3 separate regions of the Homo sapiens genome follow, and regions 1 and 2 are each linked to region 3. The links come from fine-mapping of genetic effects on gene expression. A gene starts in region 3. Each other region holds a variant in brackets. All regions are shown on one strand. Distances are from middle to middle. Region 1 overlaps SNX19 (sorting nexin 19). Region 2 overlaps SNX19 (sorting nexin 19). Region 3 holds the start of SNX19 (sorting nexin 19).

Region 1 (5,446 bases), 20 kb before region 3:
AAACACTGAGAGGGGTGTAGAGGAGAAGGAAAAGTGACTATCATTAACACCATCACCTTGGTGTAGAAGAGCTACCCAAAAGTATTTCCAGTTCCCTGTCTACAGGCTGAAATGTAAAACCTTTCCAAGTAGAAGGCCATCTATCCCGTTATGAAGGACGTAGGGACACCGAAGTGGCAACTCCAGAATCTCCACAGAATAGGAACTTTGGGAGCACTGACTATGGGTAGAAAACACAGAGGAGTAATAAATAAAACTGGAAAAACAACAAAAAGGAAACCTGGGGGAGAGAGGAGGCAGGTGTTGAGGAACTTACCTTGATGCTGCATTTGCACACCAGCCTCCCTCCCAGGAAGGCTGAATCCTCTCCGAGAAATCTTTCGGGGCCAGCATTATATTAGAGCTAAAGTATATTTCCCACCAATTTACCCAACTCCCTCCCTGCTCCAGTACCAAATAGCTCTACTTCTCCAAAGGGCACTTGGAGAAGCCTGCAAGGACAGAGGTAAAGATCAAAAGTAAGCAATAACATATGGTTGCTTCTCCAAAACCAAGTTAATGGGGGAGAGCCAAACGGTCTCCATCCATGGCCGAAAGCAATAGGGAATGTCCTTGATTATGTAACAGGTTGATAAGATTCCTAACATCGGGGCTATTCAGCACTGACAATCTCCATCTTAGTGAATACATAATGTATAAGATTTTAGGATCACAGGAGACCCTGAATATAGGTCCAAGTAGTTTATACAGAATATTAACAAAATTCTTGCAATTCAGATGTCTAGCTGGTCTCATCACCACAGACTCTGTTCTGCTCACTCTGTTCTGAATGAATCAGCTCCAGCACTGAATTTTTAACGGGTGGGATCCACTCAAAGGGGCAACTTCTGGTCATCCACACCACTCAGAGAAGCAAGCATATGCTGAAGACGCATTAGAGCAGAAGGAAGAAGGGTGAAAGATCAAAGAAACAGGGCTTATCTAAAAGTCACTGGCACTAAGGAGTAGGCAGATAAGTGGCCTCTAAACCGTAGAGCAAGCCAGGGAATGGCTTCAATATACTGTATCAACATCACGGCAGGGGACCTATAACTGCAAAACAAACAGGTCTTCCTCAAAGGACAGTGAATGGTATTGTTTAACCTGCAGCGCCACCTGGTGCCCATAGAGAGAATTCCTGTGCCCACGCCATGCAGCAGCAGTTTGGTAGGCTTTTTGTCACCTATTTGAAACAATAAAAGCAACACACATTCAGAAAGAAGCTGGCTAAAAATATTCCAGGTTGCTTTTTATTTGAAAGTAGAATGCCCCTCCTCCTGTTTTAAAAATGTCTTAGTGTCTAGAATATTATTTAGCCTAAACCAGTCTAAATGACACCTATCTCACAAGATCTAGCTGTTATACCTTCCTCTATAAAGCCTCTCTAACATTTACCTCTAAATTATCTCTTATCCCCCCAAAGAACTTCATGCACTAGGCTATGATTTCTATTTCGACAGTAACAGACAAAGGAAGTTAAGTGGTTTGTTCTAAGTCACATAGCCTCAAAGCAAGATCTGATTTCAGATCTGACTTCAAAGTCCAAGTTCTTGCTTTCCATGTGGAAGGAAAGAGGTGGAGAAAGTACAACAGCAGGAGATGCTTCCAGAGAGGGCAGGCTCGGTGGGGCTTCATACTGGGAGGCCCAGGTTGTGGAGGGGCGCTGCACTCTTTGGAAAGGAGAGAGCCATTAGAATGGGAGATGGCCTGAAGGGCCCCCAAACCTCTTTGCTTAGGCCGTACCATGGCTCTGGGAATCAGAATTCCCCAATTAACTGAAGATCTGGGTATGCCCTGTGTGGAGGGAATGAAAGACTCAGTTTCCATTTTGCTTCTGGTCCCCCAGCACTGTTGAGGAAACCCTAAGATTCTTAATAGTGATAAGCAGAGGGACTGCCTCCAGTAGAATGACGTGTGATCTTCTGTGTTCATTTATTTGACACAAATTTACTAGGTGCCTTCTATGCATGGGGCTGGGTGTTGAAGATATAATGGTAAATAAGACGCAGTCCCTGC[C/T]CTCAGGATGCTGACATACATTCTAAAGCTGTCATCAAAATGTCAAAATCTTAGGTTCCTGTTTGCAGTCACAGATGGGCAAGAGATGCCAAGAACCTGACTTGGAAAAAAAGGCTCTGAGGTTTAAATACCTCATGATATTCTGTTTTTTGTTAACTTTTACAATGAGCAATTTTGTACCTCTATTTGAGTATATGAGACTTCAAGAGCACACACACACAGAAATGCAAATGCAATGCTCAGGCACACGGCTGTCAGCTGCCATCCACCTGCTACAATCTCAAAGATATATTCCAGTAGAGACTGTCACTATGTGACAGGAAAGCCATGATGTCTTCATCCTAAGATGGGTGTAGAATAAGTGATACCCAAGAAATATGACAGGCAGACCACTCATATGACAGGGGAAACTGCTAGGGCCCATCCTGGCCCAGTCTATAGAAGTCAAGAGCTTCCCTTTGGCATGGCCTAATGGAAGAGGCCTGGGACAAGCAGTACTCCTTCCCAGGGAGCCACAGTACAATCTGAGCAAAGCCATCAATGAGAAAAATTAATTTCAGCACCTCTAAAAACAGCCCAAGCCAATGACTGGAGAGCCAGAAAATAAGCGAGAATTCTGAAGACTGAGCTTGAGTTAATTTTGTATGTGGGGGTCTTGCAAAAGTATGCGTATTTCTAGAAAAGCTGTGCATAGGAAGAGATGGGGTATAAGACATAGCCAGGCATCAGAGCTGAACTGGAAGAAAAAGTTACACAGCAAAGGAAAAAACTGTAATCTATGCTTCCTGAGAAACTCTGAGTCTTAACGTTGATAATCTTTTCCTGATTGTGAATAGCATATAAATAGAGATAGCTAAGAGACAATCTCTGGCTCAGAAGTGCTTTAAAAATAAAATCAGAATATGCAGACAAAAATAATTTATATGCTACCATCAGATGCGTGTGTCCCTGAGACCAGCTGGATGGAAAGCAAGAGAGGCTAGATGGGAATACGGCAAGGGAACTTTCAGGTGAACCCAGTTCTAGTGGCCACTGCTTTGTGGGAAAGCTTGCATGGAGGGGAAGCATGGCAGAGCAGTGGGAAACACATGAGCTCTGAGGCCAGGATGACTTAAGTGGAATCTTAAGGTGTGGTTGTTACGACTTTTATGATTTTGGGAACGTTATTTTATCTGAATGTAATTTTCTTCACTTATGAAATGTAGAACTACATGTCTATCTCATAGAATTGAACATTAATATAAACAGTACATAGCTGCTTTCCTGGTATTAATATTGTAATAAGCGTCAGTTCCTTTCCCATTGCAATTACTCGTGCACTTTTGGTGGCAGACCTGGAGGTTCTCTTAAGAAATAACCAATGTCACAAAGAACTGTTATCCACCTGCTAGTTAGACATGCCCACCAAGAAAGAGGCCCTTGAAGTAGAGTTCCACAGAAAGCGCCTTGATTCTGGAGCGTTCTAAGAGAACAGTGGAAGCAAGAGGGTTCATGGTCAACCTTTCCCAACTGTCCTTAGGGGAGGTGGACGTTGCGCCTTGCAGCACAGCACTCTCCAGTGCTCCCAGACTCTGCCGCAGCTCTCCTGACCTTTCCTAGGAGATGGTTTAGAGAGAGACATCTTCTCTAAGAAAGTGATTCCAAGGTCTGGTGTAAGGTCTAGAGCTTGCCATCAAGTTTCTCCTGGGTGCCCTGCTTGTTGGACTCCTTAAACCTGCACACCCTTTCTTTTCTTCTTCCTCTCTGGATACTTCCTAACTTTACACACTTCACGCTCCCCTCTGCCAGAACCTTTCCCCCTGGCTTTCTGCCAAGCCATTCCATTCCCACATGCCCCCAACACTCACACACACACACTCTGTCTCTATCTTACACACACACACACAGACACACACACACACACTCCCTTTTTAACTGAGAAATCCTGACGCAGATGCCAGGAATGTGTCTGCTGCCCTTTTGACACAGGTCTGATGCCATCGTTGGGGCCATGGGGAGGGCAGCGCCGCGGACGTGGCATTCACGCATTCTGCTGCTGGCATGGTTCCTATTTTTATCGTGGCATTGCTCTGGGTGTCCAGGCAGGGCGCCGGTCCAGCTTCTCATTCCTTCACTTTCCATCAGGACTCCACACCAATCCTACCCCTTACCTTGGCTGGATCTTCCTGCCCCAAACCCCCTACCATCAATGCAGCACAGTGTATCTCTCCTCTTTCCCTCCAACCCAGTCTAACTCTGAGTACTTGCCCAGTTTGCTAAATCTGATTCTGATGTTTGCAGAGATATTTTCAAGTTTCTTCTGTTTTCGGGCATGAGCAGAGTTTGCACAAGCCGGATTTGCTCCTTGGCTCAGAGTGCTACCCGCTCTCCCCTTCCCCTCCCTTTGTCTCTCATTCCAAATAAGGAGTGCTTCTTGTTACATAATTGGATGTTCCCAGCACAGAAGCTGACACATGAGGTTAGGCGCACATGCATGCAAGACTTCCCTTTGACTTAACAATGCCTTTTTTGGGCATCTAACTTCTCTTCAGCTCCCCTCCCACTTCTCTCCACATCATCAACAATCAACGGAGATTTATAAGCCTGGCTCAGATCAGAGCTCTTCCAACTTTGGCTTAGAAGGAGGGGTTATGAGGTCGAACTTACTCTGTTTTTTTTTTTTCCTTTGCAGGATAGAGAGTGTGCTTATAATTTGACAGAAGTCTATGGCGTCCAAGGCAGTAATGTACACAGGTCTTTTAAAGTTGCAAGATGGGTATACAAAGTTGGAAGCAGAGGAATAAACTTGCCTGCTTGGGGATAATAATACTGGAGGTTGGAACATGAGGACATTTTAAGGAGGAGATGCACTCAAATCTGGTGACTACAGCATCCCTGATGGTCAAACTGCAGTGAGTTCTAAATAACTAGAGAAGTGGCAGTACCACGTGTGGCACCAACACCAACTATCCTGCTCTTTTAAGCACGGAACTTAAAGGAAGAGAACCCAAGTACCCTGCAAAAGCATATGGCTCAGCTACCCGTGGTTTCAGGGAGGACAAACATGTAGCCTCCTAGGCAGCAGTCATGGGGATGGGAGGCAACGGGACCTCATATCATGCCTCTTGTGGGAGATGCAGGGGGTACAGTGGAGAGGTGCTGCAGCTCTGGAGATGTCAAGTTTCCAGCATATTGGCTTACCAAAGCAAATAAAGCTGAAGCATGCAGCAATGCATACACCACTTTTTAAAATTAAAACCTGCAACTGTCCCAGGGATAGTAACATGGGCTGTCTTTAGACTGCAGCACTGCCCTTAGGTTAGCTGCAAGTGTGTAGATACGGAGATGCAGTTTGGATTCTACAAACTGCCTGATAATCTCCAGTACTTGGAGACAGAGATTTTTGGGTTGG
Region 2 (5,446 bases), 39 kb before region 3:
GAAGAAAGATGGAAAGAATTCAGGCCCCTTAAGAGGTCTCAGAGTTGCTGAATCACCAAACTCCTGGGCTTACCTACTCACGTACTAATGTTATGAAATAAAATAAATTTTCCTCATAATTTAATTCTTGTCCAGAGCATCCTGATTCATATAGCCAGGGACCATAGTTACACATATTTTTACTTCCTCCAGGACCTAACAACTGGTGTTGTGTGCTATGAGCAAAGGAAGAGCAGTAGCTGGAAATGAATAACCTGGGTAGGACACAGGAAGACTCAAAAATGTTCTAGGCTATGCAAATCAAAACCATGAGATAGTAATATCACCTAATACCTTTTAAGATGCCATTATGAAAAAACAAAACATTACAAGTGTTGGAGAGGATGTGGAGAAACTGGAACCCTTGTACATTGTTGGTGGGAATGTAAAATGGTCTAGTCACTATGGAAAACAGTATGAAGGTCTTCAAAGAATTAAAAACAGAACAATATATGATCCAGCAATCCTACTTCTGGGTATTTATCTAAAATAATTAAAAGCAGGGCCTCGAAGAAACAGTCACACTCCCATGTTCACTGCAGCATTGTTTTCAACAATCAAGGCGCGGAGCCAACCTAAATGTCCCTCAATGAATGAACAAAGAAAATGTGGCATAGCCATACAATGGAATGTTTTCAGCCTTAAAAAGAAAATTCTGTCACATGCTGTAACGTGGATGAACCTGGAGGACATTATGCTAAGTGAAATAAGCCAGTCAAAGGACAAACACTGCATGATTCCACTTATATGAGGCGTTCAAAGTAGTCAAACTCACAGAAGCAGAAAGTAGAACAGTGATTGCCAGAGGCTGGTGGGAGGGGAAACGAGGAGTGGCTGTTCAATGGGTATAAACTTTTGGTTATGCAAGATGAAAAACTTGTAGCAGTCTGCTACAAAGCACTGTGCTGCTTCTAGTTAATAATGTACCGTCTCAAAATAAATAAATAATGTACTGTACACTTAAGAGGGTAGATCTCACATTATGTGTTTCTTTACAACAATAAGAAAATCACCTTGTAAACTGGAAATTTCCAAAATGGAAATTGGAGTAGCTTGTATTGATTTTAAAATTTATACATGCTCTCACTCATAGGTGGGAATTGAACAATGAGAACACTTGGACACAGGAAGGTGAACATCACACACTGGGGCCTGTTGTGAGGTCGGGGGAGGGGGAAGGGATAGCATCAGGAGATATACCTAATGTAAATGACGAGTTAACGGGTGCAGCACACCAACACGGCACATGTATACATATGCAACAAACCTGCATGTTGTGCACATGTTCCCTAGAACTTAATGTATAATAATAATAAAAATAAAATTTATACATGCTCCTAGGCTCAGATTTAGGAATTTATTTTCCATTTAGGTTTTATTAAGTCTAATCCAACAATGCAAAAATGAAACTGTGAGTTATATGTGATGAAAAAGTATAGCTTTCTTGAATTCAAATAAGCAATGGCAAAGATCACATTTAGAATTTGACAGAAAGAACACAGCATCCCTGCCTCGTCTTTTTTATAGATAGTAAGAAAAGGGAAAGTAGTCTTATTTCAAATATCAAAATTCTGACTTAAATGAATAAAATTTAGTCACGAGTAAATACAAAAAACAAGCAAACAATAAAACCTTCCTGGATCAGCACAGGCCCAATTCTTCCCTGCCTTTTATCACCCTGTCAGCTGGGAGTATCTTTTCTACCTGTGGCTCTCTACCAATTGTTACTCTCTTGTTGTCTGAACCTGCTAGCCAAACTTGGCAGGTCGTTTTCAAAGCCAGATGAGTTCTGATTGTTCCCTTGGCAATATCCATTATTTCCCTCCTGGGTAGAAGGAGGATCTGAGGACAGCTTATCTTTTTGGGGTACGTGGAGTAGAGGTGGGGACTCTTATATAATACGAAATAAAAATAAGTTCTTTGGGCTGGAAGTGTCAAAAGATTCCTTAGAATTTATAGCCACAGGGATTTCATGGTGTGTCTGATGTACTGATTTTGTGCCACATTTGAGCCAGAACTGGCAGCAGATTCAAAGCAACACAGGTGGCTAAGTACACATGAGGGGAAGGTAGGTATGGGGAGAGAAAAGTGGCATAAAACAAGGCTGTCCCCCTATGCTCATCGAGAATAGGATCTTAGCCCTCACTGAAGGAGCTTAATGATCAGCTCTAATACATTGGCTGGACTCCTGCAGGTACTCACGGAAAGTAGAGATGCTGAGCTACCTTTTCTTGTCAAAGTCTAGGGCTGGAGATGCTTCAAGAACTTTGGAGCCATAAAGTCACTGTAATGGTCAACTTTTAAGGCTAGAAGAGGCCATGAGACATCT[C/T]ATTCATCTCCTTGCCTTTGGGCAAGAATTGCACACCTAAGCCTCCCGAATACATCAGACACAATTTAGGGTTAAAAGCCTCCAGAGGGGCAAAAAAGTAAAAAGATTTTACAACTTTCTTCCACAAACCACTTTAATTGTGTGCTCATCACCGACTTCAGAATCTAAGAGAACTTTGACACTTGTTTTTGACACCCCATTGCCTTCTCATCAGTCTAACTCCAAGACCTTCCTCCGAGTGGTAGGCTCTGGTAATTCAGCGAAAGCAAGGCGCTAACAGGCGAGTGTGAAGCCAAAGGGCTCCCAGTGACATCCTTGACATCTTTTTGCCAGCTATTCACATGCATTTAATATACAGCACTTCCCTGTGACTGTCTGCAGCCTTTTCTACCAGCAATTCCTCCTGATTTATCCTTCTCCAGCAATTCCCAGTTGCCTTGCCTTTCTAATAGATGTTGCAGTCTGACAAAACACCTTTGCCTTCATGCTGGTGTTGTTAAAGGACTGATTATAACCGTAAGGAATGGGAAATAAGAAGCTATTCCTTGTAAGTTTGCTAATCTTATCTGTTCAGAATAATAAAAGTTCTCTGTCAAAGACTTAGGAAGGGAGATTTCATCCCCCAGCCTTGCTAGTCCTACTCTTTGTGCATTCTTAAGACAGGAGGCAAGTGCTTTCCATTCTCCTTGGAAAAACTGAGGCTGAATATGCAGCTTGTCATGCAGTTTTGCTGAAGACAGAGAGAGGGTCAAAAATTCAAAAACTCAATTGCTCTAGGGCAGGGGGTTGGGAGCAAAGCCAATAAATAAAATGGGTGGTATAAATGCCTTTCAGGAAAGGGTGTGAAGGGTGGGGTGGATTTACCAGAAGCTTTGGCAGTCAGCTTTGAAGTCTTCTGGAAAGGAAAGTGTAGCCTCCCAGGCAAGCAGCCTCATGACATCTTCCATAAGGCTGATGTGTTGGGAAACAGCAACACATGAGCAAGAAGTTCCTTGAAAAATTTTCTTCCCTCCTTCTTCTTCTGGAACTGTTGGGAAACTAGATTAGACCCAGGAGTCTGGTTTTTGAGAATGGCCCTGAATGAATTTTTAGTTTCCGGGTAGGAACAGAGAGCTGAGAAGGTTGTTTTCTCCTCCAAGGAAATCTGGCCACAGTTTTTTTCCTGTTCTATCTAGAGCTTGTGTGCTGGTGGATTAAGCACATGTGTGCACAGGGCCAGGATTCTGGCAAACAATCTCAGGGAGGATGGCAAAAGGAGAAGCAAAAGGGGTTCATTCCTCTACCTCACAGCTTCTTTTCCCAAAGGAAACAGGATCTACTCACCAGCAACAATCCCAACATCACAAAAGGAACAGGGAAATAAACGTGCATACAACTGGGACACACAGACCCCTGTCACCTGCTACAAATGGAGCAGAAGTGGGAGAGAAGTGAGCCACCGAGAACCTAGGCCTTCTTAGCTGTAGCCTACTTGAAGAGGGCACGGGCTTCCTGACTGGTCTCTGGTGGCCGAGTAACTCTACTTCCCTGACCTGGGAAGAAGGCGTGAATAACCAGCTAAGAGGAGACACCCATCCTCTTAGAGTTGCCTGGGGTATCTGAGGCAGAGGTGGTAGCAGCAGACTCCTCAACAGAGGCACTGAGATCCAAGAATTCCAGGATGATGTCCCCAAGGCAGTAAATCAAATGCCTGAAACGAATGGACAAAAAACTTAGGGTCTGGCTCAATCAGGAAACACAAGATCCTGTTTATGACATTTATTTTCTCCTCCCCCATCACCGACACCCTAAACTTCAATAGCTTGATGAAACCTCTGCCATGAAATTAATGTTTTTTGAACTAATAAAGCCTCTGACCCTAATAAAGGCAAGAACAGTTTTTATATAAGACTAGTTTTATATAAGACTAAGTTTTATAAAATTCCATTTCTCTTTACATAGTTACATTAGCACTGCTCTGAAGAACTGTGATAACAAATCCTTGAGATGTCAGGTTACTAGACACTTTCAGAGCTCCTGACTACTGCTGTTTCTCATAATTAATTACCTTAAATTTATAGGCTGCCTTACAGGCAGTGAGGTAAAGCCAGGATCCTTGAGGAAGTTAACGAACACAGTCTACTTTGGGGTAGGGTTTGAGTGCAAGGTTACTCAATACTTCCAGAAGAGTAACAGCCCAAGGGATGGAATCTACCTCTTCTGGATTATTCTAGGACTCTTCACCCAGCATTTCTGGTCCCTTTATGAAATTCCAACCTTACTATCTTGTCTACCTGATATGAAGCAAAGACAACTCCTGGTCTTGACATGAATCACAGCTTTGCTATAAGGCCAGGGCTCATGGTGAACATCTTTACATGGTCTGTGATACACAGGCCAGGGTACGCTCTTGGAGCATTCACAGGGGCTGGCAGATGTTGGAAAGAGCACTGAGCAAGTATGCTGAACAAGCCTGGAGGATAAGAGGTCATTTTCAGCAGCTCATGTGGGGGCCTGCATAGAGTTCTTCCAAACACAAATGGTGGGTGGTCCAAGAGTGATTTCCTAGCACATGACGACCTGCTCAGAAGCCTGATGGTGTGGATTTTACTTAGAGTGTGTGGATCTGGACGTCAAACTCTGTAGTCAGTGCCCAGAGCAAGTAAAGACTACAATCCTATTCTTTGGAATGTGGGCTTTTCACTCAGAAACCTTGGATACCTCTGAGACCAGAGGTGGCTGTAACTATGCTGATGTTGGAATAACATTTTCCCACTTACCTGTTGATGAGGGGTTGTTGTAGTGACTCCAGGACTAGACCCCAGCTCAGCCGGCATTTGTTCACCCCAAGAATTTCTACTACGAGATCTGAGGAGGAAAAAACAGATGGAATTTGCGTGTTATCACTGAAGTTTTAGATTCTAAGGACAGTCTCTCCCCAGGATCTCTGCCGTTTTTACATAGGTTAGGTATTTCAGGCCTACCTCTAAACCATACAGCCAAACTAAAATCCTCACAAAACAGGAAAAACCTGAGAAAAATATGTTTCTCAAGTTAGGTGTCTACATAAGAATGGGCTTCAAAAATTATTTTGTAACC
Region 3 (5,446 bases):
TATCTGGAGAGTTCTATTTGAAAATAAATAAAATACAGAATCCAGGGACCCCCTCCTTAGAAATTCTCATACAGAATCCAACAGAGTCTGTCAGAATCTGTATATCTGAAAGGCAGCTCAAGTGATTTTGAGGTGCAGCCAAGTTTGGGAACCACTGAAAATATAACCCTCAGCATTCTAGCAGCCCTGAGGTTCCAGGATTGCTTGTGTGAGTACAGGATAAACGCTACTCTGCCTTACATATTAGCTTCAGACCATTCACAGAGATAGATGCCTATTGAAAGAACCACTTCAAACTAACAGCATCTCTCCCCCAAGAACATTTGCTTCATGACTGCTTTCCAAACCCACTCCTAGCCCGGGTGAGCACCCACAGCTTTAATCCTGTTACCTTCACAGTATAGAGTGTGTATGGGTGGAATCCAGTGCCACTGTGCTCTCGGGCTGTAATGGTGCCAGTGATACGAAGGTTCTGGATGATAACTGGACCATCGGGACTGCTTAGGGGCTCAAAGCTGAAGGTGGCTGAGCTGAGAGGACCAGGTGGAGAGGAGGAAAGCAGAACTGGTGGCAGAGTAGGATCAAGGGAGCTCACATCATTGGTGAGATCCTTCTCTAAGCATGACGGCCGTGAGGGGCAGGTCTTTTCTGGCCCCTCCAGCAAAGCTGTAACAGAGGCGGTAACATCTCCTTGTTCTATCTCCTTGTCTGCTGTGTCAATATGGATCTCTGGGCAGGAATTCAGTGTGGAGACCGGCAGGCCTGTCTCTGTTTCTGTCCCTGGACCCTCCTCAGCCTCTGCTCCTTCAGATGCCTCACCATCTTTGGGTTCCAGAGCCTGGGAACTCTCTAGGGCACACAGGGCATCCTGAATCCTGTCAGAGAGAAAGCTGCCTGGAGTCATGAGCATGATGGTTTCTTTGCCCAGTTCAGACAGCGGAGACTCCAGCTCTGAGTCTTCACATAAGAACAGGGGACCTCGAACATTTGGCTGTAGGAAATGAGATGAGTTGTTTCCTACTTTTCTTTCTTCACACATCCCACCCAAATCTCCCTCTACAGCTTCGTGGCCTTCTTCAACCTCTGGAGAGGGGCCTGCAGAACCCTCTGGCTCACTGTAACTTAGGAATACTGGGGCTGCTACTGGAGAAGCTCTCCCTTCTGGAAGCTGCTCTACCTCAGCAATCAGTGGCAGAGATGTCGGCACTGAGGGCTGTTCGGGGGCACTGGCTGGGCAGGGTGCTGGATCTCTGGCCTTGGAAAAGATACCCACGAGTACAAGGTGGATCCAGTCAGGATCTGACAGCCTGCTGATCAGTGGTAAGATTACATTGCATGTGATGAGTTCGACCACTACATGGCGTCCGGTACGAGTCTCCAAGTGGGGCTTGGGCACCAGCCCTTGAAGCAACAAATTCACAACGCCACGCGTATAGGTGACTTCAGCACTGGGGCTGTGCACAGCAGGATGTGGGGCAGTCGCCCGGCAGTAAGCCTCCCAGAGGTGGGAAGGCTCAACTGGACCATTCTTCCCTGCAGTGGCCTCCTTTGCCTGAATGTAGCTCTGCAGGTGACAACCGCAGAGAGTCAGAACACTCTGGGCAACAGCATGACTGTCCATCACGCTCATCCTTCTCCGAAGCTCCTGGACCAACCCTTTCATGGCTGCCTCCATTTCTTCCTCAAAGGCTGGCTCCTGGCTCACGGAACGGTACCAAGATAACACAAAATCTCGAATAATCATCTGGATGGTGCGGTTGATCTCCCGTTCCAGCTGCCTTTCTGCCTCAGGGCATGGAGGACAGGTGGCCAACGGGATGAAGCGTTCCAGATGCAGTCGACCTGAAGCCACTCCAGCGAGGCTGGAGCCCAGCCATCCTCCCAGCACCACTAGCAATGCCGACAGAAGGCACAGCAGCCACACGTTGACCAGAAGGTGTATGACCAGGAGCCAGCCAAGCAAGACCCCCACAGCCATCAGCTTCCGGCTACTCAACAGGTTATTGAGGTGACAGCTCGATCCAGCTGGAGTTTCCTGGAACGGTGGCACTGTTTCTGTCTTCATGGCTGAACGGACAAGGTGGCTTCCCCAGATGACAGCCCTCAAGATTTTACTTCAGAGTTAGGGAAGGGGGGCATGAACTGTGTCTCAGATATGGGGCGATCTGGGTGCTGTTCAGGGAACCGGGGCTCCAGGCCCTCAAAGTCCTACAGGCACTGCAAAGCGACAGCTGCAGCTCCGCGTCTCCCCATGGCTACCACTAACAGAGCCCTCCAACTCGCCCCTTCCAGCTGAGGTGTGGCTTTGGAGGAAAACTCTGTGGCCTTCACACTGCCCCAGGCGGAAGGCCTCTTCGGGGCCTCGGGGCGGGCGCTGCAAGGCCCTGGGGCCCACGGACACTTACACACGCAGCGGGCAGCGGCCGGCGAAGACTGGGTCACACGCCGCCGGGAACCGCGCGCCCACACTCAGCCCCGACCTGAAGTGGACTCATCGCGGTCCTCTCCGGGAGCCTCGGCCCTCTGCCGCCGTAAACCTGGGCGACTGCGCTCCGCAGCCGGGCCTGTGTGAAGGCTGACCGCCGGCCGGCCGCCGGCGACAGCTTCCGGGTCGACGTCGACGGGAGCGAGGCATGCTGGGAGAGCGTCCGCGCGCGCCCCGAGGAGCGGCGCTGCCCGGCGCCCTCTGCTGGCGAGGAGCCGCCCTGACGGCCCTGCGCGAGGTAGTCTCTGAGCCTGAGCGTGAGCCTGAGCGCGCACGGGGCGCGTGCTCGCCAAGAGCTGGCGCAGATTTCCGAAGTGCCACGAAACAGCCGCCGCAGCAATCACCGCTAAGACCCAGACTTCCAGGCGCTTTAAAACGCGTCCTAGTTCTGGTTATTAAATGAAGCCTGTCCTTTACTGCTTAGGCACGCTGTCAATAATCCGGTTTATTTTAATTTCATGGAGGCGAAGTTTCATTGGCCTGATGTGTCTTAACATTTATCCGGTTTCCCCTAGAGCCGGTACCCCGCGTCCCCAGCACAAAGACCCTCATTTGTTGTCAGGAATTGCAGAATATAAGGCATGAAACGATACAGAGATAGATTTATGTTGTACATTTCATATACTGTATCACAAAATCAAATTTGTGATTGAGGGTTATTTGCTGGTGGCATTACACAAACAATCAAATATTTTGAGCATCTGCTGTCTTCAATGTGAGAGGCAGCGTGGACGAATAGAAGCAGACCTTGTCCTCCAGGACCTCCTGCTAACTGGGGATGCCAGCGCTTTGAACGCGATTGGCTATCTAGTAATGCCAGTCAGCGTGCGATATAGTAAAATACAAAATCTTATAGGAATTCAGGGGAAGGAGAGATCACTGTGGGTTGCAATGGTTAAGGAGAAGCTCACAGAAAAGGTGCCTTTCTGCTGAGTCTTCAAGGATGAGGGTTTCTATTTCCCTCTATCTCTTCTCGCCTTATCCTCCCCAAAAACATAGAAAAGGAAAGCAGAGATAGAGGTGTCCTTTCAGATAATCCTGTAATATATTTGCTTTGGAATATGCTCTATGTTGGATTGTTTTTGGTTTTAGCAAATTAGACTTCACTTGTCTACACAGGAACCTATAGGAAGACAAAATACCGGAAGCACTGACCAGGTGTCAAAAGTGTTAGTGTCAGTTTTGCGTGAAGCCAGCTTCCATGTCCACCTTGGGCCCTAGGAGCTGTGCCCGCAGGGTGGGTCTCCTTTCCATTTAGGCATAGGATTCGCATCGTTTGCACAGAGCTGCTCATGGTTGCCCTTCGTCCACCTTCTCTGTGCTGTGAGCAGTCTTTCATCATCATGGACTACTCCCTAGATGTTTAAAGGAATCTTCAAACAAATCCCAACCCAAAACTCTGCCAACAAGAAGTGCGTTGCAGCTTCCTGTCTCGTCCATTGCTGCTGTTGGGGCAGAGACTTCCTTTGAATACGAAAGAAGCCATCATTTAGATGTGACCCGTAGTTTACGATTCATCACTTCTAAAGCAAATGGTTTGATTTAGGATCAGTGTCCACTAAGCAGACTGGGCACTCCCGTGAGATGGCAGAATGTGAATCCACGGTTTCACGGTCCATACCTTTTCACTGCTGCCTGCCTTCCCGCAGAAAAGGAACCCGAGAAGTGGGCTCTGCCCCTCTACCTTCCCAGACCATTCTAATGTCCTCAGGAGCACTTAGAAAATGGCAACAATGCTCTGGAGAAAAGTCCCTGCCACCTAGTTGGGAGCTAAAACAGAAATGTGAATGATGAAGGGACTACCGACGGTGCTGAAGACTTCCTGTGGCAGTTCAAAGAGAAAGTTTACTTGGCAGCATAATCTGGAGTGTTCAGGGCAGTAAGGAAGTGACCTTGCAAGTGGGCGCTATGCCACCTGACCAGATGGTCTGGAGCATCAAGGTAGCCAAGAGTGCCTTCCTGATTCTGAAGCGGGTTTGATGGACATGCCCGTGCACTTGTCATTTGGACGGGTGTGAGCTCCTGCCTGGGGGTCTGGGCAGACCCTGGTCTCCAAACAGATTAATCACTGGGAGGAGGTGAGAGTCAGGACTGATGTGCCCTGGTGTGTGTATGTGGGGTGGGGAGACTTGGCCACACCACTCACCATCTGGAGACGTCCTTCCTTCTTTCCTTTTCCCTATTTCTCAAAACATTAAAGGCATAGTGCTAGAGTGTTGGAGAAAACAAGACAAATAAGATACAATAATTCTCCTCAAGGGACTCTCAGTCTAGTTAAAGGAGAGACACATAAATATATAAACGTAATGAAACATGATCACGTGTGTAATGTGATGTGTTCTGATGTGTTGTAATAGAAGTGCATACAATAAAATCGAAACACAAAGCGGGTGGTCAGCTGTGGAGGGGGGTGGCTCATAGACAGTTTTCCCTTAAGTTGGGAAATGAAAAAGAATTGAGTGTATTTTAGGAAATGTTGGGTAGCGAGAGCAAGGGGCAAACAGAAGGAAGGTCTTTCAGGCAGAGGCCTGCTCATAAGAAACAGGCAGAGACCATGAGAGCAGGGGGGCCCGTGACATAGGCCCTGCCAGAGCCAGCCCGCACCCCACTTGAATTTTCTCTCAAAATAGAAGACCAGGAGGCTTCCTAAAGAGAAGCTCAGTGATGGGGCAAGTGAGTGAGAAGAGGCGATGGTATGGAATTATTGCTGTGGGATATAGAAAGGGAGCTATCGAAGGTCAGGTAAAAAGATGAAGTGGGGGCTGGGCGCAGTGGCTCATGCCTGTAATCCTAGCACTTTGGGAAGCTGAGGCAGGCAGATCACGAGATCAGGAGTTCAAGACCAGTATGGCTAACATAGTGAAACCCCGTCTTTACTAAAAATACAAAAAAATTAGCCAGGTGTGATGGTGTGCTCCTGTAATCCCAGCTACTCGGAGGGCTGAGGCAGGAGAATCGCGT

Evidence for each region. PIP is the estimated chance that this variant, and not a neighbour inherited with it, causes the effect.
Region 1: its variant is fine-mapped to the expression of SNX19 in whole blood (INTERVAL, PIP above 0.99).
Region 2: its variant is fine-mapped to the expression of SNX19 in whole blood (INTERVAL, PIP above 0.99).

What each region holds. Positions count from the first base shown.
Region 1 is chr11:130,893,448-130,898,893 of GRCh38, forward strand. All of the region lies in intron 8 of SNX19 (sorting nexin 19), which reads right to left. Among named protein-coding and RNA genes, the nearest start is that of SNX19, 20 kb to the right of the region's middle. The variant C/T (reference allele first, on the strand shown) is at 2,056.
Region 2 is chr11:130,874,497-130,879,942 of GRCh38, forward strand. SNX19 (sorting nexin 19) reads right to left here. Exons shown (of 11, transcript NM_014758.3): 10 at 5,128-5,215; 11 at 1-4,058. The coding sequence ends at 3,926. Among named protein-coding and RNA genes, the nearest start is that of LINC02551, 15 kb to the left of the region's middle. The variant C/T (reference allele first, on the strand shown) is at 2,369.
Region 3 is chr11:130,913,875-130,919,320 of GRCh38, forward strand. SNX19 (sorting nexin 19) reads right to left here and starts at 2,605. Exons shown (of 11, transcript NM_014758.3): 1 at 392-2,605. The coding sequence starts at 2,065. RefSeq lists an enhancer at 2,348-2,397 and a silencer at 2,518-2,797.